2 linked regions of the Homo sapiens genome follow. The protein of the gene in region 1 interacts with the protein of each later gene in a biochemical or structural test. Each region holds a gene or a part of one and is shown on either strand. Other genes may lie near its edges. The genes, in order: PRKG2 and MYLK.

Region 1 (16,090 bases):
CCGGGAGTAAGGGACTCTTACTTTGCCTGGATTCTATCTTCCATTGAGAAAAGAAGTCATTTGGAAACAAACAGCCTGGAAAACAAGTTCCCCACCAAAAGATGGAGACAAAAAAAGAATTATGAATGACACGGAGCCAGTTCATAACTACAAGGACTTAATAATTGAAGCTCTGTAATTCCCTCATGTAGCCCCTATTTATTTTCACACACTGCAATGAAATGCTTAAAACATGGAGGCCCACCTAATTATCTTTGAAGGCAACCAAAAACCATAGTTCACTCTGGAGGCAATACTCTTCTGCAGTTAGGTATAGGAGACAGCAATCGAATGAGTAGTGGCATTTCGCTAGAAGAGAGGAAACTACATAAGACTACAAATTATTATATTAATGTAATCGCCATTTAGAAATTGCTGTCCACCAAGGGTAATTAGAAGAGACATAAGAAAAGCAAAAGTGACTGTGAAGGCGCTTGCAGGCGGATTAACACCTGGCAGTCAATGTGGGAGGAATTAAGCTTTGTTTTCTGTTTTTCCTCCAGCCCTATAGCAGTTTGAAACCAGAATCTTGGCTCTGGTCTAGATAATATCTATTTCTCTCTCTACCCATCTGGAGTCTGTTATAAATATACACAGACAAACACACACACACATATATAGATGTGTGTGTATAGCTACATGTATATCTGTCAATATGGGAGATGGTATGGTGCTGGCTAAGGTTATGGATCCAGAGTCCCAGTGGAAGCACTTTCATTTAGTGGTCTATATTCCCTCAGGCAAGATACTTGAGTGTCAATAATGGAAGAAAAAGATAGAAACATAGAGAGATAGACAAAACAATGCTGCCTGTCATTTACAGTTTTTAGAGGATTAAATGAGATAAATCATGATGAAAATTTAGCACAGGTATTAGCATATAGTATTTGTTTAAGAAATATTAAATATTACTATTATTATTACATTTAACATTATTTATCCAACAAGAGAATTTATCTTAGAGGAAAAACTTATTGAACTGAAAACATGTACTAAACCAACACAATATTGAAGGAGAACTGATACTGTCCAACTTTAAGGCTTACTAATAAAGTAACGGTAATCAATATAGTGTTGTATTGGTGAAAAAATAGACAAGTAGATCAATGGAACAGAACAGAGATCCCAGAGGTAGACCTAAACAGTACAGTCAACTGATCCAAAGATCAAAGAATACAAAAGAGAGCAAAGACAAGTCAATGGAGAAAGGATAGTCTTTTTAACAAATTGTACCGGAACAACTAGGCATTAATTTTTAAAAAAATAGAATCTAGATACCGATCTTATAACTTTCACAAAAATTAGCTTAAAATGGATCACAGACCTAGATGTAAGAAACAAAATTACAAAACCCCCAAAAGACAACATAGGAGAAATTCTAGGTGATCTTGGGTTTTGTGATGACTTTTTAGATAAAAGACCAAAAAGCCTGATTCATAGACAGAAAAAATTGACAATTTTGACTTGATTAAAATTTAAAACTTCTGCTCTGAAAAAAAAAAGAAGAAAATGAAAAAACAAGCCATAGACTGAGAGAACGTACTTCTAAAACATATGTCTAATTCTGAACACTCAATAATAGGAAAACAAACAACCCAACTGAAAAATGGGCAAAAGATCTGAGCAGACACCTCACCAAACAAGGCACTCAGTTGATAAATAAGCATATAAAAAGAAACTCAACATCATAGGTCATTAGGGAATCTCAAATTTAAACAATAATGAGATACCACTACACACCTATTACAATGACTACAATCCAAGACACTGACAACACCAAATGCTGGTGTGAATATGGAGCAACAGGAATGCTCATTCATTGCTAGTGGGAATACAAAATGATATAGTTACATTAGGGGACAATTTGGCAGCTTCTTACAAAGCTAAATATACTCTTACTCTACAAGCCAGCAGTCATGCTTCTTGGTATCTACCCAACTGATATGAGACATATGTTTTCACTAAAATCTGCACATGAATGTTTATGGCAGCTTTGTTTATAATTCCCAAAACCTGAAAGCAACCAAGAAGTCCCTCAGTAGGTAAACGGATAAACAAACTGTGGCACATCCATATAATAGAATATTATTCAATAATAAAAGCAATATCAGCCAACAAGAAGACATGAAGGAACTTTAAATGCATATTGCTGGGTGAAAGAAGCCAATCTGAAAAGCCTATACATTGTATGATTTCAACTGTATAGCATTCTGGAAAAGACAAAACTTGGAGACCATAGAAAGATCAGTGGTTGCCAGGAGCTTGGGGAAAGACAGAAAGGAATAGGTGGGAAAGAACATTTATAGGGCAGTAAAACTATTCAATATGATACTGTAATGATATACACATTTCATTATATATTTGTCAAAACCCATGGAATATACAAAAGGAATGAACCCCAATGTAAACTATGGACTTTAATAATAATGCATCAATATTTGTTCCATCACTTGTAACACATGTACCATACTGATGAAAGATGTTAAGAGCAGGGGAAAGTGCTAAGAGGTGGGTATATAGGAACTCTGTGCTTTTTACTCAATTTTTCTATAAACCTAAAATTTCTACAATATAGAAAGTCTATTAGTTTAAGAAAAGAATTATGTATTAAGAAATGAATGCAAGAAAGCTGATAGCACAGTCAAGGGACAGGCTGAAATGTGTGATGGATGGAAGGAGAGTAATGAATAATGAAACTGAAAAAGTAAGATACTGAAAAATTTCCTACGCCACATTATGGTATCTGAATCTTAAGATACACTAAGTTCTCTAGTTATGTGGTCAGATTTGTCCTTTAGGAAAATAATATTCTCATAAATAAGGAATGGAGTAAAAAGAGCTTAGAGGAAGTAAGACAAGGGAAGATACTATTGCACCAATCCAAATAGGAGGTGATAGTTTAAGGATTAAAGCTCAGAGTCCCAACACTATTTAATGACTTGAACTTCTTGAACTCAAGAAAAAAATTGACCATCTCCGTGGTAGCCAGAGAGAAAAACATTGCCATATGAGATTCAATAAAAGTTACAGCTATATGTAACACTGCAATGTCCTTCCCTTCAATAAATCATGGAAACCAGAATTGATTTTTTAATGATAATGGGCAGTTCAGCTGGAAATCAGAGGAGTGAATTATACAGACTTCTACAGATAATATTCTAGGTGGATAGGAAACTGATACATTTGATGTTACCATTAGCTTGTCTCTCTAAAGTTCCTTTAGAAAATAATTGAATATATAAATCCCTGATTCTTCTCCCTGAAGCAAACCACACAGAGTTGTTGTCCTTGTGAGAAACAGCTCACTTTCACATTAATGCCACAATTAAAAGCATCTGTCCATCCAACCTTGTGACTGTTGACCCGGGGCTCAGTTTGGAATCTACTGCTTGTTTTCTCTGTCCACAGCATCCTGGCTGGAGAAAAACTTTCTCTTGACAGGAAATCATATGACCTTGTTGTACCAAAGTTGCAGCTACTCTGGAGGTTGGTTATCTCTTTAAAGTGCCTCCCTCCCACCCCCCCAGCAGAATGTTCGCGGTGAATTTTATGAATGCCACTATCCTATATTTGACTGCCAAATTCAGCTATTTGGGGGGCTACATTAACAGATAAACAAGCAAACACACAGAAATGTAGGTCTGTAAGTCTAGGTCAGAAGATTATAGCTGACAGAATTTTTGAGTGGTGGCAAGAAGAAAGACGATGAGGATTTGAAAGTTTATACTGTGGCAACTGGGTAAAAGGTAATGTCATTGACCAAAATGAGGAGCAGATTTGAGGGATAGGACAGTGAGTTTAATTTTGGATATACTCAGTTTGAAGCACCAGTGGAAACTTTAAGTAGAGAAGTTTAGTGAGCAGTAAGAAATGAGGGACAAGAAAAGCTAAAGAAAGAGGAAAGCTGAAAATATTAAGCAGTTATTGATACATAAATAGAGGCTGAAGTTGATGAATTGGAGGCAAGTGCCCAGGATATTAGCGATGAGGAGAGGAGAGTGTCTAGGTCTATATGAGGTTGGAAAGAAAACTGTAAGATATGGTAAGAAGGTACTGCTTTGGTTAAAGTGAGAGAGGATGTGAAGAGATTAATATTAGAAGAGGGTGAGTAGGAGGAACACTGCAGGATAGCATCTCTAATGTAGTAATTAAATGGATGTGCATGGGAGGGCAATCAAAATGATTTCAATGTTTTGATCTTAGGAGGCTTGAAGGAAAGTATTACTATCTACTCTTCATTCATTCAGTCATTCAAAAAGAACACATAGGGCACCGTGTATGGGCTAGACACTGTGGCACTGACAGAAGTCAGGAGAATGAGCATGCTTTGAAAAGACAGTAATGAGTCTGGATTTACATATATTGAGTTTGAGATGCTTGTGGGTCATCATGATGCAAATGTCTAGCAGGTAGAAGCAAAAAAGAAAACTCAAGGGAAGAGATTGCTCCATAGAAGACTTGAAGTACCATTTGTAGATGAGATCACTAAGGGAGGTAAGAAAGGAATGTCTCTATTGTTACCTATGAACATATAGGTAATATCTGTGGATATTATTTGTGGGAGAAGAGGAGGAGAAGCAAACCACAAAGGAGAAGGAACACGTGTACCAATAAGAGATTTAGGAGAAGCATCAGAAAGGCCATGCAGATAAGATCCTTAAGAGGTGAGCAGGCTGTACCTCACATCCCACAGGCCTGTCACAGCAAATGAGATCAGAGAGAAAAGTGCTGAATCTGATTTGTCAAAGAGTGGGGATAGACACTCAACTACAAGGGACCATGGAAAGAGCTGACACTAAGAGTAGAGCCTGCAAGACGATATCATGATTCATGTGAGGGATTTTTAAAATAATGAAAATTTGAAAATGTCTGTAGCTCCAGGATAATGAAGCACAGGAGATATGAAAAACGAAAACATGGGAGAAGAAGAGATAATTCATAGGAAAAATAGCCTAGAGGAAGCAAGACAATAAGGGATCACAGGACTTGGGCAACAGCCAGGCAACATATGCCTTCACTGTGAGGTGAATTCTCATTAGCCTCACTTGTAATGACTTCATAGAACTGGAGTTAAGGATTTCACGTAAAAGAGAAAGATCCCTGGGCATCATCTTTTCAGGTCGTTTATTCTTAGTCATACAGCGTTCCAACGGAGAGGATGCACTCTAATTCTCCATAGAGAATTCTCTACCATATTAGCTCATACCCTCCTGTGCAAAACTAAACAGGAGTACTGAAAACAGCTAGTGTATGTTATGTGGGATGATCGCCTTCTTCATGAGTTAAATAGAAACTTGCAAAGAAAAGAGACAATTTCTAAGAAACTCTAAATATGGGGGTGTGGTGGGGTGGGGGCAGGTGTATGTTGCTCTCTTCCTTAAAAAAAAAAAAAAAAAGAAGGAGAAGAAGAAGAAGGAAAAAGCCCCTGGGAACTTGGGGAACAAGATGAAGATCAGGAAATCAAGGCATTTGTCCCAGCGTCACCCTTCCTACCTACTAATTCTGCATGCGTTGCTTTTATTGTCAGCTCTGGCCTCAGCTGCTTCGTAGTTGCACCGTAGTTCTTCTCAGAACTGAACCTATTTCTTTTTTTCTCATCCCCAAAGTGGCTGGTTTCTGGGCTTTGTTTGCTCTTGTTTCTTCATCACCGAGAAATACAGAAATATGAAAGCGCCTCACGGTGCCCAGAGTGACAAAAGGACACCCACACAAGTTTACCAGGACTCCTAAAAGTCCTTGCCTGAGGACTGTCCCCTAGCAACTACCCAGAGCTCGACGAAGCAAAGCCGGGAGCGCAAGCCCTGACAGCACCGCCAAGCCCCTAGCTCGGAGCAACAGCCTCCACCGCTTCTCCTCGCTAAACCTAGAGAACCCTGAGGACTCCCCACTGGGGCTGAGCCCCTCCCGCCCTCAACAGAACCTCTAAACACAAGTAGCCTTTCCCTGCCTCCAGGAGCTCACGAAACGCTGCCACACCGAGCGAATGCAACGCGTACACACGTCCACACTCGAACAGCACAAGCAAGAGACCGGCTGGGTGTGGAATAGAGGCGCACATCGCGCAACGCATTCACAGCATGCACACGCGCGCACCCCGACCCCGTCCCTCCCCGCGCGCCCTCACACCCCGGCGCCCAAGACCCCCGGCCCACGAACCTCACCAGACAGCCGGGTAACTTTCCAGGTGCGCAGCTTGTCACCTCGGCGCGGCCGCCCCTGCGTCTCAGCGTCCTCTCCCACGCCGCCCTCCCCAGCCGCCTGCGGCGCCGGAGCCCAGCGCAGGTCAGCTCAGCCAGCCCCGCCGTGCACACGGTGCGCAGCGTGGGCCCGGGGCTGCCGGCTCAGTCGCTCCGGCTACGTGTGAGCCGGGGGCGCGGGTTAGCGCGATGCGGGCAGGAGCTGCGGCGGCGTCGGTGCTGCCGCCTGGCTCCGCGGCGGGGGCCGGTGCAGAGGAGACACGCAGGGAGGGAGGGAAGAGAGGAGGGAAGGAGGAGGGAGGGGGTCAGCCGGGGCTACTGCCTGGATAGTTGGGCGCCGGCTTCCCTAAAGGTGGGGTCACCCGCGCCCGCACGCACACTAGCCCGAACCTTTACTCCCGACACAGCCGCAGTCTGCACTTTATACCCCATACCCTCCATAGTGAGGCAACTTAAGTAGGGCGATAACATCGTGGTTGTAAGCATTTTTGTTCATGTTATTATTTCTATTTCAAGTGTGTGGGACGAGGGGAGAGGAAAGTTCAGGGAGGTGTTCATTTTTTCCTTCCCCTCCCTTTCCTCCATCCTTCCAGTCTGTTTTCACTGCAGGCTCTCTCCACTTCGCCTTCCCTCCCAGAGCTCAAACAGGCGCACGTACCCTGGACATGCCCTCCTCTGTCACACCAATGCCTTTCTACGAAGACATGTGACCCCGAAGCAGCTCGTCGACGCGCCCCTCCCGGACTCTGGGGCCATAACTTACATCTAGTTTGCCAGTTCACGTGATGCTGGGGGCAGGGGTTGAATCGAGTTTCGAGGGACAGAGATTATACCTTCCGAATCTGCAGGTCTTTGGGAAGGGAGCTTTCTTGATCACCCAAGAAGATAATGCTCTCTCGTCACCTTTTGAGTACATTTTTTTTTCCTGAAGGGTGCAATATGGTTTCCTAAATATATATGTACACCCCACCGCATTATTTGCTGTGCTCTGGAGTTGTGAGATCTCCATGTGGCTTTTTCCCTTTCCTTCTGCCCCCAGAGGAATTTCACCAGCAAATTCACGGAGGACAAGGGCAGTTTCTGTGTTGAGAGATGGAAAGTATAGTGAGGGTCTATTCCTCACTGTGCATCTAGAGAATGTTACAACCAACTCTCTTGGGTTTTTAAACCACATGGTGGCAGTGGGGCTCATGTAACATTTGTATACACTGTTACATACATAAACTTATATTAAAAATGAGGCCCATGTAAAATATGTTGAATGAGACCATTAAGTTTCAGAGGAGGAGGAATATAGTCCTGTTTGTTTTTGTGCTAACTGGAGGAAAATCGCGAAAGTACACAAAGTACCTTTTCATGAAGCTATCCCAGAGTCTGTACATTTTATAAAGACCTCAAAAAAAAAAAAATTAGAGGAGAAAGGAGTGAGGAAGAATTCCACAAGAAAAGAGAAAATAAGTAATTGTATGTCACTGTAATAATGGACTTTTAAGTTGATGGGCTGAATTTTTATTAGCGATTTAATGACAAAAAGGAGAAAAACAGATTTTCAAAGTCTTCACTTTAAAAAAAAATTTCAGATTCAGGGGTACAAGTGCAGTCGCATTACACGGACATAACACATAGTGGTGAGGTCTGGGCTTTTAGCGCACCTATTACCCTAATAATGTGCACTGTACCTAATAAGTTGTAATTCCTACCTCACCCACCTCCCACCCTCCCACCTATTGGAGTCCCCAGTGTCTGTTATTCCATTCTGGATACTCATGCCTGCCCATTGTTTAGCTGCCACTTATAAGAGATTCTGCAGTTTTTGACTTTGTTTCTGAGTAATTTCACTTAGGATAATGGCCTCTAGTTCCATCCATGTTGCTGCAAAAGATATGATTTCATTGTTTTTGTGGCTGGGTAGTATTCCATTGTGTGTGTGTGTGTGTGTGTGTGTGTGTGTGTGTGTGTGTAGTACCCCTGAATCAAAAAAAAATTTTCCCAGTTTTTCAGGTGATAGGTACACAGTGTATGTGTGTGTATACCACCATAGTGTGTGTGTATATATTTTGTATATATATATATATATATATATGTGTATATATATAATATAAAACCACATTTATAAATCCAATCACCCCTTAATGGACACGTAGGTTGACTCCATGATTTTGCTATTGTGAATAATGCTGCAAAGTCCTTACATTTCATTGAGTCCTGGGCTTTTTTAAACAATGGGTTGCTAATTAATGGATTATAAAATTGATGTACTGGGTCAAAGCCAGCATTTTTAAAATGATACCAAATAGAATAAAAAATAGCAGAGTATGCACGCACACTGGGTCAACTGGGTCATATGTACTTTCTTACCGTTCATTGAGGTAAAAGCTTGAAAGCTGTCGATGCAGTGCAGGCTGTTGCCCAGGGTCACCCAGCTAGGAAGAGTTTGAGGGGGAACCTAAGTTCCCTCCCAGCAATCCTATGCTCTGTCAAATCTACAACTCTACCATGCTGAACAAGGAAACGGAGGAAGAGAAGGAAAGTGACCACTTTTTGAGCTTTTAATTCAGTCTTTCAACAAATGTGCTTTCAGCAGCTCCTGCATCTCAGGCCCAGTGCTAAATACTTAGAATTCAATGGTGAACAAAATTAACTTGTGATCTCTGCCAACTTAGAGTGTACAATCCAGTGAGAGAAACAGACATTAAATAAGTAAACACAAAAGTAAGCATATGTGGGAGAAATACTGTGAAGGAAAATGAGAGAAAAAAATATGGGGTTATAATTTAGATGTGGGAGGCTGCAATTAATAATTAACCCAATTTAGAATGGCTTAAATTATAAGGAAACTTACTGTTTCACAAGGCAAGAAGTTCCAAGGTCAGGAGGCTCTAGTTGGTGAATTCAGGAACACAGTTGTGTCTGGGAAGGCCCTGGCCTGTTCCCGTTATTCCCCCTGCCATTCCCAGTATGGCAGCTTTGTCCCCTGGGGCTGCTCCACCCATGGCCCCAGGATGACTGGAACAACTCCATTTATTATGGGCAATCCCAACAGTGCCCAAAGGTCACAGAGATTCTCTTTTCCAGAGTCGGGAAATCGTTCTTGGAAGCTTCCAGGAGACTTCTCACCTGTCATTAATCCAAACTAAGCATGTGCTCACACCTAAATGCTGGAGGTGGAGGGGAGAATCACCATTCCCAGCCTCTTAGGCTCTGCAGGACTGGTTCCTAACTCTTCCCGATTGCATTCTTTGAGAAGTGCATACCCGAATAAAAAGGAGAGGGTGGCAATGGATGCTGGGTAGGCAATCTAGAGTCTGCTACAGGGGCTCAAGAATAATGTCTCTCTGGAAAAAAAAAAAGTGGAGGGCATTTAAACTTAAGATGAGTAAGAGTGAGACAGGGAGTGAGGAGGAAGCACCTTCAGGCTGAAGGAATCTGGCCTGTGATGTTGGACTCTGTGTCATGAGTTAAAGGCTTCCATGTAATTTCTCATTTACTCCTTTGACCTGAGGAGGTAAGCACACCTGAGGAAGGAAACTCAGAGAGTTAAGTAACTTTGATCAAATTCACAGAGCTAATAAGTTGCAGAGCCAGTCTATATAATTCCAGACCCTAAAATCTTGACTTCTTCTACCTGTACAAAGACAACGAGAAATTAAAATCCACTGGCCTTTCTTTGCCATTGACTGAAGAACACAGGCCCCTCAGAGGCCCGTCTGCAATGTTAATCTAAGCACATGGGCGATGTGGGACATACTCATGACTAATCCTCCTCCTACTAGGTAAGCCTCTGCTCCACTAGGTCTCCTGGTCTCTGCTAAGCACTGTCACCAGAGCACCAGAGTTCTCACATTGTCAAAGTTCAGAGGTAGCCTATGGAAATGGGGATGATAAAAGGCCTGTCTTCCCTTGTTTTATACACAGAAAAGTCCCCAAGCAGCCCAAGTGTTTCACAGAAACCTCCCGGTTTTGCCCACTTTCTGTTTCTTGCAGGGACCTGCATCCAAGAGGCTGAGCTAGGAAGAGATCCAGTAATGTTTCCATACTTAATTCAGACTCCCAAGCCCCTGGATGACTCAATTTGAGTTCAGGATCATCCCATGCCAATCTTATTTTCTTGGGATAAATTTCCACACAGGAGGCTCTATAGTTACCTTTGCACACAGACTCCTGTCAGGGCACCCCATCAGATCAGCCTTGTGCTCATAATCTTTAATTCCAGCTTGGAGCCCTCCAAGGCCCAACTGAGGTCCCTTCTATGGATCAGCAGAAAATCTCCTGGGGACATAAGAGGGACAAAACTCCCATGCTGGTGATTCACACTCCATTTTCTCACCATGTCTTTGGTTTTCTTTCCTTCCCTCTTTTATTCTTTCATTTATCTTCAGGCTTCCTTATCCTACCACACTAACTCCATGAGCAGCCATTTCAGTTGCTAAGGCTAGAACCTCAAGTCATAGTGCCCTCCTTTCTGATTGGTTTTGCCAAACCCTAGCCAAGAGAAAATCCCATTTGCCTTTGATGCTTTTGTTGTCCAGGTTCCAGCATCACTCAATATGGTTATAAAACTGGGCCAATTGGATCCACCCAAATTTTCATGTTATCTAAGCTCCGTGCAGCCCACAATCCCTTTATTTACCTCAATACCTCTTCCATGAAGTCTTGCTGACCATGAAGGATAGTGCTTCTCTCCCATGACCCCACAGCAACATGGTGCTCCAAGTTACAAATCCTTGTTAACTTGCCAATCTCCCTTATTAGACTTCAGAGCAGGGACTTTGTTGTATCAATGCTTATATCTCCAGAACATACCCAGCTCAAGTCTCTTCATTATTTAAAAAATAATTTAAAATTTTCACTCTTTAATCTACTATCTTCTTTAAAAAAAAAAAAACTGTCTATTAAGATACTAGAGACTTGAAAGTGAACCCCATATGTGGTGCCTCTACTTCCTCTGTGGAAGCTCATCAATAATGTCATACAATCTTCCAGGCCTAGCATTGGAAGCATCAGTCTTCTTTCTACTCCTCTTTCCAAAGGGACAGTAGCCTGTCATTTACCAATGCCTTCCCAGTGATCCCGGTTGGGGATGAGAGTGTTATGGGCATTAACTCCTGGTACATCTGGGCTATTTCCAAGCTCCTCCAAGCAGCAGCCGAGCCTTCGTGTGATCCCAATCTAGAATTGAACAGTCTCTTGCCCATGCTTTCTCTGAATGTCCCCCATCATCTGTTTCCACTCCCACCCAGTCCAAATTTTCCCAGGATTCTGGCTTTAGCCCTTTCTTCTCTCTCTCTTTCTCTCTCTCTTTTTCTCTCTCTCTCTCTTTCTCTCTCTCTCCCTTTCTCTCTCTCTCTGTCTCTCATCTCATAGCTTCACTGATTATTTCTAGGTGTCCACCCCTTTTCCAGAACTTGCCAGCACTGTACTTTGTCTCAGCCCTTCTTGTGGTATTTATCACTTTCTACTTTGTATTATTGGTGCCTAACTACATTTATCTCTCCTACAGAGCTGTAAACTCTTGGAGGGCATGGTTCACATTTGATTATCTTTGCTGTATCTCTCCCAGTACCACACACAGCAGGTCCAATCCTAGAGTTGATAGGAAGCCATGATTTGTTATCCAGAAGAATTTTGCTTATGTTTCTGAAGTTCCGTAGAAAGAATTTGGAACATGTTCTTGATTTTCCTTCTGGAATAGACAATTGTTTAAAATAATGATATAAATTAGAAATTAATAGTCTGTCCAATTGACAATCAAGTAATAGTAAAATTTACTTTAAAAGTACAAAATATAAATAAATTTGGTCTTCTGGTTTTATCTATACATAATAAGTTTCAGCCCAGGGTACACTGACTTTCCTAAATAGTGATTTTTTTTTCTAGGTATAGGTAGTCATCAAATAATATAGCCAGTGTACACTAACTATGCACTAGGTTCACAGTATTTAGCATCCCACCATCCTGTGCTATTTCAGAGTCAACCTGGACTACCCATCCAACACTTAACGTCTCAACTCGTTAGTCTTCCCATATCTAATAGCTCCATCTCAGCTTCAGCCATCACTCCCATAGTCACACCTGGAAATCCCTCTAAAATCACCAATTCTGTGAGTGCATATGCACCCCAGATCTGCACAGTCCTGCCTGCCTCCAGGGCTTCAGCCCTTTGCCTTGCTTCTCAGCCAGAGTGGCCCAAGCAATGGCTGGTGTTGTCCCCATGGTCCTAAAGCCCAGTTTAATGCTGTCACTGACCTCGGCCTCCCTTGGATCCAGGGCCAGACCAGCATGACCTTCATAACACCCACTGTAGAGGGAGCATCAGCAGCTCCAGGCCCCTGGGCTGACCTGACTGAACCCACAGAAACTCTGGCTTCCCTCACTGCTGCCTGGAGGGGCCCAAAACACAACCCAGAAATATAGTGGAATTAATGACCTGTGGAGCCGACTTTGACCACTGAGAGACAGGAGCCAGGATGAAGACAACAAATAAATTGTTCACCCTTCCTGCCCACCCAGGAGCTGTTCAAAGATGCAATGGTTCTGTATTTCTGGCTACTCTGGCATGACTCAGCAACCAGCTTTGTTTTCTAGAGAAGCTGTAGACAAATTGGTAATGCACAACTTTGAATCTGCTTTTTCTCCTTCTCTCTTTTATTTCTGTGTTTCTGCTCATTCTTGCTTCCCTAGGATAATATTCTAAATAGAGTGTCACATGTGAGCTTTACCTTAGGTTCTGTTTTCTAGAGAAACCAAACTAAAATAAGGCATTATACTCTGTGACAACAACTTTCCATCCTTCAAGCTTAATTGTTCAATTACATTCTCTTCATGTGTTTCTGGCCCTATAGTGACCTCTAGTTCCTTGATCCTCTATTTACTTCCTCACTGTCTTTACTATGCTCCTTACACAGTTGGGTATGGAATGCATTATCTCATGCTACTGGTACCTTGCCCCAGCCTTACGTCTTACAATAGCCAGGAGAAGCCCCCATTAGGAAGGAATTCCACTTCTTCCTCTTGTACTTAAACAATAAAAACTAGTGAAACAAGGTAGATATAGGTCCTGTTCTCATAAACTTAAATTCTGGGTCAATAGTAGGAGATTCGACTGGTAAAGCCATTCTAGAGAACCATCTGGAATGATTTACTCAAATTAAGAATACATACAGCCCATTAGCAATTCCACTTCTGAGTATACCATATATCCTAGAGGAATTCCCATATGAGTCCATAAGGGAGCATGTACTAGGATGTTTATTGCAACTTCCTTTTTATTGTTATGATTAGAGGCTAGAGGGCACCTGGGTATGCATCTCTGGGAGGGTAAATAGGTAAGTTCCTATGGCTATATGCCATAGGATGTTTATTGCAACTTCCTTTTTATTGTTATGATTAGAGGCTAGAGGGCACCTGGGTATGCATCTCTGGGAGGGTAAATAGGTAAGTTCCTATGGCTATATGCCATAGGATGTTAAACAATACTTAGAAACAAGTTAGATGTTCCCAAAGCAAAGTGATATACCTTAAAAATAAGAGTATCTAGTAGAAAATAGAAGTACAATGAGATATATATAGATATAAAACACAATATTCTTTGCATAAATTAAAGATAATATGCACAAAATACATTATTCATTTTGCATAAACACATAAAATAAAAAGATACAAAAAACACATTAGAACGTTAGGGAGTAGAGTATTTTAATAAAAGAAATAACAGAAGAGAAAAGGAAAAACTAGAAAAGGGAATGGAAAACTACTTCTGAGAAGTGGTCTTCAGAAGACCTCTCTTAAGAGGGAGCATTTGAGTGAAGACCAAATGATGAAACAAAGCCTACCACAAGATGATCTAGGAAGGAATATGCCAGACAGAAGGAAAAGCATGTGCAATGGCCAACAGGCCTATATTAGTTGGTTCTCACACTGCTATAAATAACTTCCTTGAGACTGGGTAATTTATAAATAAGAGTTTTAATTGACTCGCAGTTCCATATGGCTAGGGAGGCCTCAGGAAACTTATAATCATTTCAGAAGGTGAAGGGGAAGCAAACTTGGACCTTTTCACATGGTGGCAGGAGACAGATTGGGAGGAGCAAAGAGGGAAAAGCCCCTTATAAAATCATAGGATCTCATGAGAACTCACTCACTGTCATGAGAATAGAATGGAGGAAACGCCCTCATGATCCAATCACCTCCAACCAGGTCTCTCCCTAGACATGTGGGGATTACCAGGATTATAATTCACGATGAGATTTGGGTGGGGACACAGCCAAACTATATCGAGGCCAAAAGAACTTGGTGAGTTTCAGGGCTGGAACCTAAGAACATGGAGGAGTGTGATACCATGTAGTTCAGAGAGGGTACAGTGAGGCCAGATTACATGAGGCCCTGTAGGCAATGGTAAGCAGTTTGGGTTTTACACCACTCTGAATTCTTCATATCAATCTCCTCTGGGCACTGAATGCTCCCTGGTAATCTTGCTGAATTTACCTGGTCAGCTATATTTCTCTCTACCACAATGAATGTGGTAAACCTTTTCCTCTTTCTTCAAACCTTCATCTAACCATTCTTACTCATGGTCATTGGTCTCACTGACTCTTCACAGCAAATAATTGTTATGGATTGAATTGTGTCCCTCCTGAAATTCATATGTCAAAATCACAACTCCCTGAACCTCAGAATGTGACCTATTTGGATACAGGATTATTACAGATTTAATTAATTAAGATGAGGACATTAGGAAGGACATTAATCTGACATGATTGGTGTCTTTATTAAAAAGGAGAAATTTGGACACGGAGACAGACAGTCATATGGGAAGGATAATGTGAAGACAACCACCTACAAGTTGAGGAGAAAGGTTTGGAACAAATTCTTTCCTCACAGTCCTTAGAAGGAACCAATGCTGTCAACACTTTGATTGTGGACATCTAGCCTCTAGAACTGTGAGACAATAAAATTTGTCATTAAAACACTTGGTCTATGAAACTTTGTTACAGCAGCCCTAGCAAACTCATACAATTACAATAATTTGTGTTGAGCCCTTACAATGAATGTGAGCACTGCACTTGACATGCATTAATGCAGTTAATCCTCAGGAAGACCCTATGAGATACTATTATTATAGCCATTTATTAAATAAGGAAACTGAGGCACAGAGAGATTAAGTACAACTCATCAATAAGAACTTCCTCAGTGTCCCTACATAAAATCTAGAAGCCTGTCTGCACAAGATATACCCTTTTCTCCCTCATTTCCCCTTAGGATGAGGCGTCCATTATTCTGTCTAACTTCAGTGCTTCTACCTGTGCTCTTGATCACCTGTCTGTCCTTAAAGAACTTTGGTTCCTTAAGTTTCTCCCACATTAAGCAGGAGCTTCTTCCATTATATCTTGTAATAACTGCTCCTTCGCAAATTTCCCAACATCCACACTCGCTGTCTTCATTTCCTCTGTCATTCCTTTGACCTATGGTATATCAGTTTCCTAATGCTGCTATAACAAATTATCACAAATTTGGTGTCTTAAAGCAACACAAATTTATTTTCTTACAGTTCATAAAGTCAGAACTCTGAAATGGGTCTCACTGAGCTAAAATCAATATGGTATTACAGACCAGGCACGGTGGCTCACACCTGTAATCCCAGCACTTTGGGTGGCTGAGGTGGGTGGATCACTTGAGGTCAGGAGTTTGAGACCAGCCTGGTCAACATGTTGAAACCCCGTCTCTATTAAAAATACAAAAATGAGCCAGGCATGGTGGTGCGCACCTGTAATCCCAGCTATTCGGAGGCTGAGATGAGAGAATCGCTTGAACCCAGGAGGCGGAGGTTACAGTGAGCCCAAACTGCACCACTACAC
Region 2 (15,656 bases), on another chromosome or scaffold:
CATAAGCACAGACATATGGGCCAATGGAATGGAGAGTCTAGAAATAAACCCTTGCATTATATGGTCAGCCTATTTTCAACGAGGTTTGAAATCAATGGGTAAACAACAGTCTTTTCAACAAATGGTGGTGGAAAACTGGATATCCACATGCAGAAGAATAAAGTTGGACCCTTACCTTATACCATGTACAAACATTAACTCAAGATGGATGAAAGACCTAAATTTAAGAGCTAAACTGTAAAACTCTTAGAAGAAAACATAGGGAAAATTTTTATGAAATATTGGATTTAGCAATAGTTTCTTTGGTATGACATCAATAACATAGACAACAAAGCAACCTACAGAATGAGAGAAAATATTTGCTAATCATATATCTAGAAAAGGATTAATAGTCAGAATATGTAAAGAACCCTGCAATTTAATAACAAAACAACCCAATTTTAAAATGGGAAAAGGAATTCGATAGACGTTTCTCCAAAGAAGATACTCAAAAACAATGCTCCACAATTTTAGTCATTAGGGTAATGCAAATCAAAATTACAATGGACTACCACTTTATACCTGCTAAGTTTATTACTATCAAAAAATAGAAAATAATATATATTAATGAGAATATGGAAAAACTGGAACCCTTGTGCATTGCTGGTGAGAATGTAAAATGGTACAGCCATCGAAACAGTTCGGTGGTTTCTCAAAAAAGTTAAAAAAAATAGACATATGACTCAGTAATTTCATTCCTAAGTATGTTTTATTTTTAAAAGAATTGAAAATGGTCATTCAAACAATACTCATATGCCAATATTCATATTATGCATTATTCATAATAGCCAAAATGTAAAAACAACCCAAATGTCCATTAACAGAAGAATGGATAAACAAAATAATGCTAGATATGAATATTACTCAGCTATAAAAAAATGAAGTTTTGATATATTCTACCTGGATAAACCTTGAAAACATTACACTGAATGAAATAAGACAGACACAAAAGGATAAATATTATATGATTACACTTATATGGGGTATCTAGAATAGGCAAAATGATAGAGACAGAAAGTAGAATAAAGGTTACCAGGTGTTGGAGGGAAGAGGAAATGGGAGATGTTGCTTAATGTGTACAAAGTTTCTGTTTGGGATTATGACAAAAGTCTGGAAATAGATAGTTACACAATATGGTGAATGTACTTAATGCTACTAAATTGTATACTTTAAAAATGGTTAAAATTGGCAGGGCACGGTGGCTCATGCCTGTAATACCAGGTCTTTGGGAGGCCAAGGTGGGTGGATCACAAGGTCAGGTGATTGAGACCATCCTGAGTAATGTGGTGAAACCCCATCTCTACTAAAAATACAAAAAATTAGCTAGGTGTTGTGGCACGCACCTATAGTCCCAGGTACTTGGGAGGCTGAGGCAGGAGAATCACTTGAAACTGGGAGGCAGAGGTTACAATGAGCCGAGATGACACCATTGCACTCCAGCCTGGGCAACAGAGCAAGACTCCGTCTCAAAAAAAAAATGGTTAAAATTATAAATTTTGGGTTATGTATATTTTGCTACAATAAAAAAGTGAAAAAATTAACATGACAGGGAAGAGTTGTGAAATGGTTTGAATTTGTGTCCCCACCCAAATCTCATGTCGAATTGGAGGAGGGGGCTGGTGGAAGGTGATTGGATCATGGGGGTGGATTTCCCCTGTGCTGTTCTTGTGAAAGTTTAGAAAATTTGCAGCCTGACCATACGGTAGTAAAGAAAAACCCATTTTCTGGACAGAAAGTCAAGCTGGCTGCAGAAATTTGCATGAGTGGAGCCAAATATTAATATTGAAGACAATGGAGAAAATGTCTCCAGGGCAGTTCAGAGACCTTCACTGTAGCCCCTCCTATCACAGGCCTGGAGGCCTAGGAGGGAAAAATGTTTCATGGGCCAGGCCTAGGGCCTGGCTGCTCTGTGCAGCCTCAGGACATGGCACCCTGAGTCCCAGCTGCTCCAGCTTCAGCTGTGACTAAAAGGGGCCAAGATACAGCTCAGACAATTGCTTCAGAGGGTGCAACCCACAAGCCTTGGCAGCTTCCATGTTGTGTTGGGCCTGGGGGTGCACAGAAGGCAAGAGTTGAGTTTTTGGGAACTGATATGGTTTGGCTCTGTGTCCTCACCCAAATCTCATCTTATAGCTTCCATAATTCTCATGTGTTGTGGGAGGGACCCAGTGGGAGATGATTGAATCATGGGGGCGGGTCTTTCCTGTGCTTTTCTCAAGATAGTTAGTGGGTCTCACGAGACCTGATGGTTTTAAAAATGGGAGTTTCCCTGCACAAGCTCTCTCTTTGCCTGCGGCCATCCATGTAAGATGTGACTTGCTCCTCCTTGCCTTCCATCATGATTGTGAGGCCTCCCCAGCCATGAGTAACTGTAAGTCCATTAAACCTCTCTTTCTTCCCAGTCTTGGGTATGTCTTTATTAGCATATTAGCATTGTGAAAATGGACTAATACAGTAAATTGGTAACAGCAGAGTGGGGTGCTGCTGAAAAGATACCTGAAAATGTGGAAGCAACTTTGGAACTGGGTAACAGGCAGAGGTTGGAACAGTTTGGAGGGCTCAGAAGAAGACAGGAAAATGTGGGAAAGTTTGGAACTCCCTAGAAACTTGTTGAATGGCTTTGACAAAAATGCTGATAATAACATGGACAATGAAATCCGGGCTGAGGTGGTCTCAGATGGAGATGAGGAACTTGTTGGGAACTGGAGCAAATGTGACTCTTGTTATGTTTTAGCAAAGAGACTGACAGCATTTTACCACTGCCCTAGAGATTTGTGGAACTTTGAACTTGAGATAGATGATTTAGGGTATCTGGCAGAAGAAATTTCTAAACAGCAAAGCATTCAAGAGGTGACTTAGGTGCTGTTAAAGGCATTCAGTTTTATAAGGGAGGCAGAGCATAAAAGTTCAGAAAATTTGCAGCCTGATAATGCAATAGAAGAGAAAATCCCATTTTCTGAGGAGAAATTCAAGCCTGCTGCAGAAATTTGCATAAGTAACAGGAGCCAAATGTTAATCCCCATGACAATGGGGAAAATGTCTCCAGGCCATGTCAGAGACCTTTGTGGCAGCCCCTCCCATCACAGGCCAGGAGGCCTAGGAGGAAAACGTGGTTTCATGGACCAGGCCCAGGATCCCTGTGCTGTGTGCAGCCTGGGGATTAGGTGCCCTGTGTCCCAGCTGTTCCAGCTGGCTAAAAGGGGCCAATATAGAGCTTGGGCTGTGGCTTCAGAGGGTGCAAGCCCCAAGCCTTGGCAGCTTCCACATGGTGTTGAGCCTGCAGGTACACAGAAGTAAAAAATTTAGGTTTGGAAACCTCCACTTAGATTTCAGAGGAAGTATGGAAATGCCTGGATGCCCAGGTGGAAGTTTGCTACAGGGGCAGGGAAGTCATGGAGAACCTCTGCTAGGGCAGTGTGGGAGGGAAATGTGAGGTCAGAGCCCCGACACAGAGTCCCTACTAGGGTACTGCCTAGTGGAGCTGTGAGAAGAGGGCCACTGTCCTCCAGACCCCAGAATGGTAGATCCACTGACAGCTTGCACCATTCGCCTGGAAAACCACAGACACTCAATGCCAGCCCATGAAAGCAGCCAAGAGGGAGGCTACATCCTGCAAAGCCACAGGGGCAGAGCTGCCCAAGACCATGAGAACCCACCTCTCACATCAGTGTGACCTGGTTGTGAGACATGGAGTCAAAGGAGGTCATTTTGGAGCTTTAAGATTTGACTGCCCTGCTGGATTTCGGACTTGCATGGGGCCTATAGTCCCTTTATTTTGGCCAAATTCTCCCATTTAGAATGGCCATATTTACCCAATGCCTGTACTTTCATTGTATCTAGGAAGTAACTAACTTGCTTTTGATTTTACAGGTTTATAGGTGGAAGGGACTTGCCTTGTCTCAGATGAGACTTTGGACTGTGGACTTTTGAGTTAATGCTGAAATGATTTAAGATTTTGGCGGGCTATTGGGAAGGCATGATTGGTTTTGAAATGTGAGGACATGAAATTTGGGAGATGCCGGGGCAGAATAATATGGTTTGGCTCTGTGTCCCCACCCAAATCTCATCTTGTAGCTCCCATAATTCCCATGTGTTGTGGGAGGGACCTGGTGGGAGATGATTGAGTCATGGGGATGGGTCCTTCCTGTGCTGTTCTCATGATAGTGAATGGGTCTCACAAGATCTGATGGTTTTAAAAATGGGAGTTTCTCTGCACAAGCCCTCCCTCTGCCTGCTGCCATTCATGTAAGATGTGACTTGCTCTGCCTTGACTTCCACCATGATTGTGAGGCCTCCCCAGCCATATGAAATTGTAAGTCCATTAAACTTCTTTTTCTTCCCAGTCTCACGTATATCTTTATCAACAGCTTGAAAATGGACTAATTCATGAACCTCCACCTAGATTTCAGAGGATGTATGGAAATGCCTGGGTGTCCAGGCAGAAGTCTGCTGCAGGGGCAGAGGCCTTATGGAGAACCTCCACTAGGTTTGTGTGGAGGGGAAATGTGGAGTTGGAGCCCCCACACAGAGTCCCCACTGTGGCACTGCCTAGTGGAGCTGTGAGAAGCAGGCCACCATCCTTCAGACCCCAGAATGGTAGATCCACCAACAGTTTGCACCATGCACCTGGAAAAGCTGCAGGCACTCAATGCCAGCCTGTGAAAGTAGCCACAGGGGCTATACCCTGCAGACCCACTGGGGTGGAGCTGCCCAAGGACTTGGAAGAGCATCCTTGCATCAGCATGCCCTGGATGTGAGACATGAATTCAAAAGAGATTATTTTAGAGCTTTAAGATTTAATGACTTCCCTGCTGAGTTTTGGATTTGCATGAGGCCTGTAGCCCCTTTGTTTTGGTCAATTTCTCCCTTTTTTTTATTTGAGATTGTGTCTCCCTCTGTTGCCCAGACAGGAGTGCAGTATCACGATCTTGGCTCACTGCAGCCTCTACCTCCTCAGTGCAAGCAATCCTCCTGCCTCAGCCTCCAAGTAGCTGGGATTACAGGCACGTGCCACCACACTTGGCTAATTTTAAAAATATTTTTAGTAGAGACAGGGTTTCACCATGTTGCCCAGGCTGGTCTTGAACTCCTGACCTCAAGTAATCCACCTGCCTTGGCCTCCCAAATTGTTGGGATTTCAGGTGTGAGCCACTGCACCTGGCTGCAATTTCTCCCTTTTGGAATGGTAGCATTTACCCAATGCCTATATCCCCCTTGCATCTTGGAAGTAACTAAGTTGTTTTTGATTTTACAGGTTCATAGGCAGAAGGGATTTATTTGTCTCAGATGAGACTTTAGACTGTGGATTTTTGAGTTAATGTTGAAATGAGTTAAGATTGGGAGACTATTGAGAAGGGATAATTATATTTTGCAATGTGAGCAGGACATGAAATTTGAGAGGGGTTGGGGTGGAATTATATGATTTGGATTTGTGTCCCCACCCAAATCTCATGTTGAATTGGAGGAGGGGCCTGGTGAGAAGTGATTAAATCATGGATCATGGGGGTGGATTTCCCCCTTGCTGTTCTCATGATAATAAGTGAGTTCTCACAAGATCTGATGGTTTAAAAGTGTATGGCACTTCCCCCTGCATTCTCTCTTTCTCCTGCCACTATATGAAGAAAGCACTTGGTTCCCCTTCACCTTCTGCTATGATTGTAAGTTTCCTGAGGCTCCCTAGTCATCCTTCCTGTTAAGCCTGAGGAACTGTCAGTCAATTAAATCTCTTTTCTTCATAAATTACCCAGTTTCAGGTAGCTCTTTATAGCAGTGTGAAAACTGACTAATGCAAGTTGAAAGAAAAAGAAGAGCCAGATAAAAGTGAGTGAGGGAAACAGAGCCAGGAAATCTTAGAAGTCCAGCCACCATATATATTTTTTGACACTACTCAGAAACAACAAACGGGAAAGCTTTGTGAAGTTTGAAAAACTGTCTGGACCAAATCTCCTTTTAAAAGTTCAAGAAAACAAAATTCATGTAAAAATGATCAACAAAAAAAATACTAAGGTCAACTCTCATATAGCTACTACAACAAAGTGAATAAAGATCATAATAACCTCCAGAAAGATATTCTCAAAAAAATTAAAGCTATAATGTCCTAGAAAAGCTAATACACACTGAGTGACATGAAACATGAAAGAACAACATACATCAGAATTAGAGAAACTCAGAAATTAGAACAGAACTCACAGAAGAATTAAACGTTTTATTTTTTATTTTTTTTTGGAATTAAACATTTTAAAAAGCATTTGAGAAATAAAGATTGACCTATAAGGAACACAAGAACACATAAATATAACTAATAAAAACTTAAAAGAAAATAAGGTAAAAAGGAGGGAAATTTATAAACTTAAAAACAAATGAAGAAAGAAATTAAAAAGATTTAAGGGAAAGTGACAAATGTTGAAGATAGACAAAAAAGGTTCAATATGCAGATAATAGAAGTCTCCAGAGAAGCAGTCTAAAGCAATCCAAAACAGAACAAATATTTAAGACTTTAATTGAAGAAAATTTTCCTGAAATTAACAAAATATATGTATTTGAAACCACATTTTGAAAGAAATACACACTGTTTACTTTCAAACTAGAATGACCAACAAACATTCTAATAAAATTACTGGATTTGAAAGAAAAAGATAAAGTTATTTGGGCATCTAGGCAAAGTGAGAAGGTGCCGTCTACAAACCAGAAAGAGGGCTCTCAACAGATACTGAATCTGTTGGAGCCTTGATCTTGGACTTCCCAGCCCCCAGAACTATAAGAAATAATGTTTCTTGTTTATAAGCCACTTATTTTGTGTTTTTTTTTTTTGTTGTTGTTGTTATAGCAACCCAGCTGGACCAAGACACCAAGTAGTTTGAATCCAACAAAATTGACCTTCAAGTAAAATGGCATGAACAAACTGTAAGCAACATGCAAGAACTCAGAGCATATTCTTTCCATGAGCCCTTCCTAAGGAATCTAGTAGAGGACAAGCTTTCAGACAACCAAAATGACTAAAGATACATAAACATAAGGAACTAATGGTAAGCATTAAATATATATTTGAACTTTAATTAGGATTAGAATTGTAGAACTGTAAAATTAAGACTAAATTAGGGTTAAATAGGAAGATTATGGTATAGATGGCTATAGAAGCTGATAATTTAGATAGAGTATAACTATAAAAGATGGATAGCATATGCAAAAAAAACTGTTTTCAAGAATCAAAACTGATGATGGTAGTATTAATATTGTTATTCTGAGATTATTATTATATGTTTAATGCAAACTAAAGCAAATTAGTAAATTGGGATATTCTAATTTCATCCTCCCTTTTGTCCTTGAGAACCAGAATTCTCTACATGAAAGAAAAGAGGTCCTAATGTAATATATGTTAAGTAAAAACTACAGTCCTGAAATTAAATTGGAAATAATATAAACTGATGAAAATATTATGAAGAATAATATTTCTCTAGAATATAAAAAAATGAAGTATTCTTTAGTAGCTCTGTCTATTGAAAAGGCCTAGAAACAGTTACCAACCTAGTAACAATGAATACTCCTAGTGCTCATATTGTTATCTTAAAATTTCAACAAAAGAAACTAGAGCTTCTGGCCAGGCGGGGTGGCTCATGCCTGTAATCCCAGCACTTTGGGAGGCCGAGGTGGGCAGATCACGAGGTCAAGAGATTGAGACTATCCTGGCCAACATGATGAAACCCCGTCTCTACTAAAAATACAAAAATTAGCTGGGTGTGGTGGCACGTGCCTATAATCCCACCTATTCAGGAGGCTGAGGCAGGAGAATCCCTTGAACCAGGGATGTGGAGGTTGCAGTGAGCCGAGATCGTGCCACTGCACTCTAGCCTGGTGACAGAGTGAGACTCCATCTGAAAGAAAAGAAAGAAAGAAAGAAGGAAAGAAGGAAAGAAGGAAAGAAAGAAAGAAAAAAAGAAAGAAAAAGAGAGAGAGAAGGAAGGAAGGAAAGAAAAAACAAAAAAACTAGAGCTTCTTGGAGAAATGGCTGATTCCAGGTTTGAGGCAGCAAATGTACAGATGTGCCTGGAACATCTTGTCATATCAGATAGCAAGGAAGCTATCAAAGACTTCTAGGGTCTTTGAAGCTCTTTGCACACTAGTGAGAGAGAGAGAGAGAGAAAAAAAAAAAGACTACTAGAATCTTATCAAAAGGAGCCAGGAGCCATATTGAAGAAGCTCCTACTGGCCAAAGATGGGACAATTTGAGCTCTAATATCGTAGATGGAAACCTATCAAATATATTTAAATTCATGAATTTATAATGATATTAAAGAAATCTAAGAATGACAGAGAATCAATTCCTTAACTTGAAAACTGGGTAATTTTTTTAAAAAAAAGCAGGTATTCATCGTGCCTTTCCTATCTCAGGGTAATCAAATAGTAGATGAGAGGAAGCATCTCCTTATCCACTTATGAACTAATAAATGAAAACAAAATTATTAGAATACCATGATTTTGCAAACTTCAATTAATTAATGAATCTAGGAATTGAGCATCGACGGCTGTTAACCTCAAAAAAGAGCAAACACCAGACATCATGATCATGTACCTCTTGAAGAAAAGAACACACAACCATCTATAATCTTACAAAAGACATCAAACTTCAGTCTGAGGAAGACCCTGGATCAGCTGCCAACTTGCTGTCAATACAGAGGACAGAGAAACATGCTGAATTGCCTCATGAATGTGCAACCCCCAGACTCTGGAAAACCTCACAGATCAAGGGCTTAAGTTATTTAACAAATAATTGTAAGGAAAAGACTGAAAAGGCAAATCAAATTAAAAAAAAAAAGAGTGGGGGGAGGGGTAAGGTGCACCCTTGGAAGATACCAAGAAAAACAAAAGCAGCAGAAGTGACTACATGAAAGTCAGGTTAGTGGTTACTTTTGGGAGGAGGGAGAAAGGGGGTTGTCATTGAGGTAGGGCACATGGAGAGGCTCCTGGGGTGGCTGGCAGAGTTCTATTTCTTGATCCAGGTGGTGATTACAAGGATGTTCCCTTTATAATAATTCACTAGTCTATATATCTATATATTTGTTTTTTGTGGTTTTCTGTATTTATGTTTTATTTTACAATTAAAAAATTTTTAAAAACACTCCTTAACCTGCAGTAAACAGTTTTTTTAAAAAAAACAAAAGAAGGTCCAAGTGAAGAGATCAGAAGCTATAAAATATTTCATATTGGGTGCAAACTAAATATAAAGCAAGCCAAAACCAGAAACACCTCCTCCCCCTCCCCTCCCCCCCCTCCCCTTTCCCCTTTTTTAATTTAAAGAACTTTGTAGGTATCTTCCAAACCAATGAGAGATTCTTAACACACACAAAGGGAGGATGTCAGAGGAACCATGGGGCTGAGTTGCACCACTGGAGGATGTCTGAAAAAAACTACATAGACAACCTTCCAGCACTAAAACTTTAGCCCCATGGTTCCGCTGACATCTTCATTTTACAGATTAGAAAACTGAGGCCCAGAGGCAGCCAGTGTCTCATGCACGCTCACGAAGCTAGCATCAGACCCCGACCTAAGGCCTAGGTCTCCCAGTGTAGGACTAAGACACGCACCAAGACAGTACCAGCCCGCTGACCGCCGCCTGCGAGGAGTTAACTGGGGCGGTGCAGGATAAGTGCGAGGGGGGCCCGGGTCTGGCGCTAGGTTTGGCTGCGGATTCTCCGCTCCGGACTCCGAGGCAGAAGGCGGGTGGGCGTGGCGGGAAGGGCAGCAGGTCCACTCCCCGAGCGCTATGCAAATGTCATGCAAATCAGTGCATGGGGGCTGGAGCGGGTGGTTTGAGTCCTGACCCCGTAGCGCCGCGCTCTCACTCGCTCTCCTCAGCGCGCGTCCGCTCTCCGCTCTCCCACTTGCTCTCTCTCTCGCCGGTTCGCTCACCCCCGCCCCGCCCCGCCCCGCCCCGCCCTGCCCAGTCCCGGACGCGCCTCGCGGGCTCCCCGCGCCGCCCGGTCGGCAGCAGGGCGCTGAGCGAGCTCGGAGCCCGCGCTGTGCGCCTGCGGCCGGGGCGCCCCGCCGAGCGCCGGTGCCCCGGCTCCCGGGCCGCCTTCGCCGCGCGGGTGAGTGAGCCCGCCCCATGCTTTTGTCCAGGCGCGGGCCCTGGAAGTCAAGGCTCCGAGGGTGGGAGTTCTGGGTGGGGGCTGGGACCCCCACCGTCTGTGCCTCCCGACTCCCCTAATGGAGAGGGGCCCCGGGGTGCGGCGAGGAGTCAGGGGCGTAAGGAGACGACCCCAGTGACGCCAGGCTGCACGAGTTTTCTTTTGGGGAGATGAAGTGCTTGGGGACACTGATGCGATTGCCTTTCTAGGAATCATCCGAAGGGGGTGCCTTTGATTTGAGGGGCGGAGGAGAAGCGGACCCTTCTCCCAGCTCCCAGACCCTCGCTAGAGGACTCGGTGACGGCCTCTGGGAAGGGGGTGCCACGTGAAGGTCCTTCCAGCCCAAATGTGATTCCGGGAAGGTAGGGCGGGGAAGGCGGCCCGCGAGTGCCAGACCTGGCCATCCCAGGCGAAGCTGGGGCGCGGGCTTTGCAGACTTGTTCCTACTCCATACTCCTCATTTAAGCTCCTTACCTCGCTCTGCCTCCTTCGCGTTAACTGGGGTCCCATTGTTGAGGGACCTTGTTCGCCGATGATTGCAGTTGGAAAGTTTTGGATAAACTTCTCAGGAGATGTGAGTTGTCAATGGTTGAGGTAGACCCCTCCCTGGAACTTATGGAACTAAAACCCTTCAAGACCCAAAGGACTGAATTTCTAGGAGTGGCATTGCAGATGTGAAGATGGGCTGATGGGGAAATGGTTTCAAGGATATATATTTTTTTTAGATTGGGGTGTGTGTGTTGGGGTGCGGGGCACTTTCTATTTCGTAGCCAGAAGGAGAAGACCCAGCTCTACTAGAGTCTAGAGGGAGTAAAATTAGCTGTTGTGATTCAGGGAGCTGGGTGGGTGTAGGGAAACACCTGGGCAGTGGGCATGATGCCAGACCTCAGGCCGTTGGTTTTTACCATCCCTCCTCTCCCCAAGTGCAAAGACCAGAGTATATGCAATGACCCGCCCACCCCACAGCCTTTGAGAGCCTGCCCTGGAGCTGCATCCCCCTTCCAAGAGAGGCTGTGTTCTTCTCCACCTGAATGGAATACTTTTTGTCAAAATGCACTTATCAATAAATTATTTCCAGATGGTGGGCTTAGGAGGACCATTTGGGGAACCCCGCCCACACTTCAAAGAATCAGGAATCAACAATGCAAGTCTCTGGGAGAAGTGTAGGTGCATCTGGTGACTTTACTAGGTTCCTACAAGGCATTTAGGGTTCTAATAGAACTGTTTTCTTTTCTCTTAAATTCTTGACCTCCTTCTCTCTTCCGTGATTCTCTTAGTCTCTTCCCCGCCTGCACACTGTGGGACTGTGGAGGATGATGCTGCTGGCACCACAGTGCTCTAGGGCAGCATGGAATTTTCCTTCCTGCCCAGAGTGAGGTTACCCCTTTTTCTCCCACTCTCAGTGGGCCAGGAGCCTTGGGTCTGGGAGGAACCTGAGCAGTTGGTCCTGGGTCCGGAGTGGTTGGACTCTGGATGCTGGATTGGGTAGCGGGTACTCTGGGGACATGCACAAGAGCTTTTTTTGCCAAGATGTGCAGGTCTGTCTCATTGTTCACTGATGATACAAAGGATGCTGGACCTCATTTGCAGCTAAGCATGAGCTTGGAGAACCACCCCACAGTGGGGAAGCATTTATGCTGGTTTATCTCCCATGTTCAGTTTCTTTTGTGTAATAACTGGCTAGCTGAGGAGGAGGGTAGCTGCAGCATTGTAGATGTTTCCTTGTCTTATTTTTATTTTTATTTTTTATTTTGAGACAGGGTCTGGCTCTGTTGCCCAGGCTGGAGTACAGTGGCGTGATCTCAGCTCACTGCAACCTTGACCTACCAGGCTCAAGGAATCCTCCACCTCAGCCTCCTGAGTAGCAGGGACTACAGGTGTGTGCCACCACACCTGGCTAGTTTTTTGGATTTTTTGTAGAGATGGGGTCCTACCATGTTGTCCATACTAGTCTAATGGGCTCAAGTGATCGCCCACCTCTGCCTCCCAAAGTGCTGGGTTACAGGCATGAGCCACTGCACCCAGCCAGAGTAGTTGCTGTTTGTGTGAGGTTTGCTCACCCCTTCATCAGGGGCTGCTTCCCCAGGGGCCAGATCTTAGAAAACATATGCAGAGCAGACTAGGCCTTGGAACATTCCTAGGCTAACTGGTAAGGCCAGGTGGCCCCACCTGCTGCCTGAAAATGGTAGACAGACAGCTACAGTCACTGCAGAGGAGGGGCTCCTGGCTGGCAGGTGGCGGGGGTAATCTGCTGAGAAGGCTTGTCAGAGAAGGAGGTGACCCAGATGGTGCAGAGGGGAGAGGCCTTTGAGTTCCAAGGGTGGGGAAAGGTTCTGGGTCTCTGGCTAGGGAGATCTTTGCTGGTCTCAGAGGCATAGATTGTGAATGCGCTGGGGTCACCATATACTCAGTGTCTTTGAGAATGACCCCTTGCTTTTATCCTCAAAATATAAGATGAGCCTAGAGTTTGAAACACAACTAGTTGGCTTGTCTGTCTTTTAGGAAGTTCATAAGGTGGGGTGGGGGTTTCAGAATGCAGCCTTGCTTGGGGACATGGGTACAGTGTCCCATGAGTATGGGGTGTCTTATTTAGTATCTTTCTGAGAACAATACTTGGGAGTCTGGAAATATAAGCCTACTTGGAAGCCCAGCTGCACCTCTCACAGCTCAAACCAACCCACACAGGCTGGGAGATTGTTCATTCTTAAAAGCTTCCTGTCCTGTCTTTTCAGCAAATGTAGTAAAATTTAGAAACAACACTTAAAAAGTATCCTTTCCCAACAAAAGACAATGTCCTCGCTCAACTTGGCCAGCAGAGGGTGCATGCAGAGGACATGAGGCAGGGCCATTTGCATGGAAAATGTCCATGTGGATGCTTAGGCCTGAGCAGGGTCTATTGGGTGGCCTGAGTGCTCAGAATCAAGGAACCGTCCAGCAGTGAGCCAGAGTGGGACAGAACGATGTCACTGTGATGAGCTCCTATGCCATGTGACTTCTATCTCTTCCCTGTGCTCCCCCAGCCTCCTACCTTACAAGCAGGCAGACATGGTTGTGCGGGGAAGCAGTGCCCATACAAGCCACGCCCCTCTCCCACCTGCACCATTCTGCAGATGGATTCTCTTTATTCTTCCTTGAGTTTTGGCTGCACACTTTTCCATTCGTTTGATGCCAACAGGTTGAGCAAATGCATTCCCCTCACAAACTCAAGGTGGGTGGACCTCCGTATTTGCACTGCGGGCCAACAGGTGCATCCCTCCTCCTTGTTGCATGCACCTGGTGTGTGAGGGCTGCAGCCCCCATGAAATTTACTGACAGCCAGCCCAGTCAGCTGGGGCAGGAGGAGAGCCAGCAACAGTTGCTGCCTCATGGGCTGGAAGGTAAGGCTGTGTTTCCAGATGCTCCCACCACCTTCTTTTCCCTGCCCTCCTGCTCACTGTACTTCAGTGTCTGAGGGTGAATGGGCACCCCACTAGGGAGCTGTGGAAATTTTTGTGTAGATCCAGCTTCTTAGATTTCCCACGTTGTCCCCATCCCCCCTCTGTTGGTACTTCCTTGCCCCCCTTCCACCCTCTGCTCCTCTCCTTCCCTGGGTCTTCAGTGCAGAGCCCTCTGGAGACAGAAAGCCCCTTTGGAGACAAAAGAAAAGGGATGAGGAGAGGATTTCCTTTTCTTTCAGACCTGCTTCTTGATTTTTTTTCCCTTGGCTCTGGGCGCTCAGATCTGATGCTAATTTGTTAATCCAGGACCTTATGGGTTATTTCTCATAATCTTTGGGGGAACCGAACACCTGCAACTTGGGGCTTTTATAGTTGAGGATGCTGTTTACCTTTCTTGTTTTCAGAGATGAGGATTTCTGATGTATAGTAGGTCTCATTCAGGTTTCTGGCAGGAGGAGGCAGCCAGGCAGAATGTGATCTTTGGTGTTAAACTTGGGTTCAGTTCCATCCCATTCACTTACTGGCTGGGTGTTCTTGGGCATGGGTTTTAACCTCTGTGAGCTGACTTGAGTTTTGTCATCTGACAATGAGGGCGGTTATAAAAATTAAATGAATATAGGAATATAAATAGGCACAAAACAAAGAATAGCTTTTATTATATATACCGGGCAGTGTTCTCCAGGTCTATATAATGACTTGTAAATCAACCAGCAGACACTAATGATGTCTACTTTCTATTGAGCTCTGTAGAGGCTTATAAAACAAAGGTAAATGTGGGCCAGGCACGGTGGCTCACGCCTGTAATCCCAGCACTTTGGGAGGCCAAGGCAGGTGGATCACAAGGTGAGGAGATTGAGACCATCCTGGCTAACGCGGTGAAACCCCGTCTCTACTAAAAATACAAAAAATTAGCCAGGTGTGGTGGCGGGCGTCTGTAGTCCCAGCTACTCGGCTGTAGTCCCAGCAACTCGGGAGGCTGAGGCAGGAGAATGGCATGAACCCAGGAGGCGGAGCTTGCAGTGAGCCAAGATGGCGCCACTGCACTCCAGCCCAGGCGACAGTGTGAGACCCCGTCTCAAGAAACAAACAAACAACAACAACAAAAAACAAAGGTAATGTGTCTATGCTAAGAGACTCTGGGTGGGTAGCAAGAGAGCTAACACATAGGTAATTAGAAAACAGGGACAACATGCAATTTCCAAGTTTCATTAACAGAATTAAAGGATGACAAGAAATTCAGGGGCTAGAGTGATGCAGGAAGGCCTCAAAAATGGAGAGGAGGAAGGGAGGGTAAGCATTTGCCAGGAGAGAGGAAGGCAGGAACATTTGGCTCCGGTGTCTGAAGGCTGTTAGCTCCTTCCTTGCTGGGCCCTGGCACAACACCTTTGACCTTGCAGCGCACTCCCAAACATGCAGGTGTGCTTGTCCTGAGGTTTATTTTGGGGGTGGTTTTCATTCTGGCCTTGTTTTCCCTCTGCTGCCAATAATATTTCTGAAACATCTGAAATTGTTTTATTTTATACTCGATCAAAAATATTAAGAGGCAATTGGGTGGCCAGAGTGAAAGCCCAGAGGCCCGTAGAAGACTTTTGGGTTTCTGGGGCTTTGTGTTCTCTTTTCATGCCTCATATATTGTAGCTCACTTCCTAGTTCTGGAATCACAGGGTGTTAGGACTAAGGGTCAGGTCCACTTGACCTTTGCATTGGACTGAAGAGGAAACTCTGGCCTAAGATGCCAAGTGGTGGCTGGGCACCGTGGTTCACGCTTGTAATCCCAGCACTTTGGGAGGCCAAGGCGGGTGGATCACCTGAGGTCAGGGTTCAGGACCAGCCTGACCAACGTGGTGAAACCCCATCTCTACTAAAAATCCCAAAATTATCCAGGTGTGATGGCAGCCTCCTGTAATCCCAGCTACTCGGGAGGCTGGGGCAAGAGAATCACTTGAACCCAGGAGCAGAGGTTGCAGTGAGCTGAGATCATACCACTGCACTCCAGCCTAGGCAACAAGAGCAAGACTTCGTCTAAAAAAAAAATCCAAGTAGTAGAGCCAGCATC

What was found.
Region 2: of the proteins of PRKG2 (region 1) and MYLK, one has a biochemical effect on the other in vitro, tested with the Homo sapiens proteins (one study listed by BioGRID).

The regions. Positions count from the first base shown.
Region 1 is NC_000004.12:81,208,736-81,224,825, forward strand, and holds the start of PRKG2 (cGMP-dependent protein kinase 2), read right to left. Parts: upstream 6,488-16,090; 5' UTR 6,201-6,487; exon of another isoform or gene 5,533-6,200; intron 1-5,532. UniProt on the Homo sapiens protein: Crucial regulator of intestinal secretion and bone growth. Phosphorylates and activates CFTR on the plasma membrane. Plays a key role in intestinal secretion by regulating cGMP-dependent translocation of CFTR in jejunum.
Region 2 is NC_000003.12:123,878,674-123,894,329, reverse strand, and holds the start of MYLK (myosin light chain kinase, smooth muscle), read left to right. Parts: upstream 1-9,997; 5' UTR 9,998-10,124; intron 10,125-15,656. UniProt on the Homo sapiens protein: Calcium/calmodulin-dependent myosin light chain kinase implicated in smooth muscle contraction via phosphorylation of myosin light chains (MLC). Also regulates actin-myosin interaction through a non-kinase activity.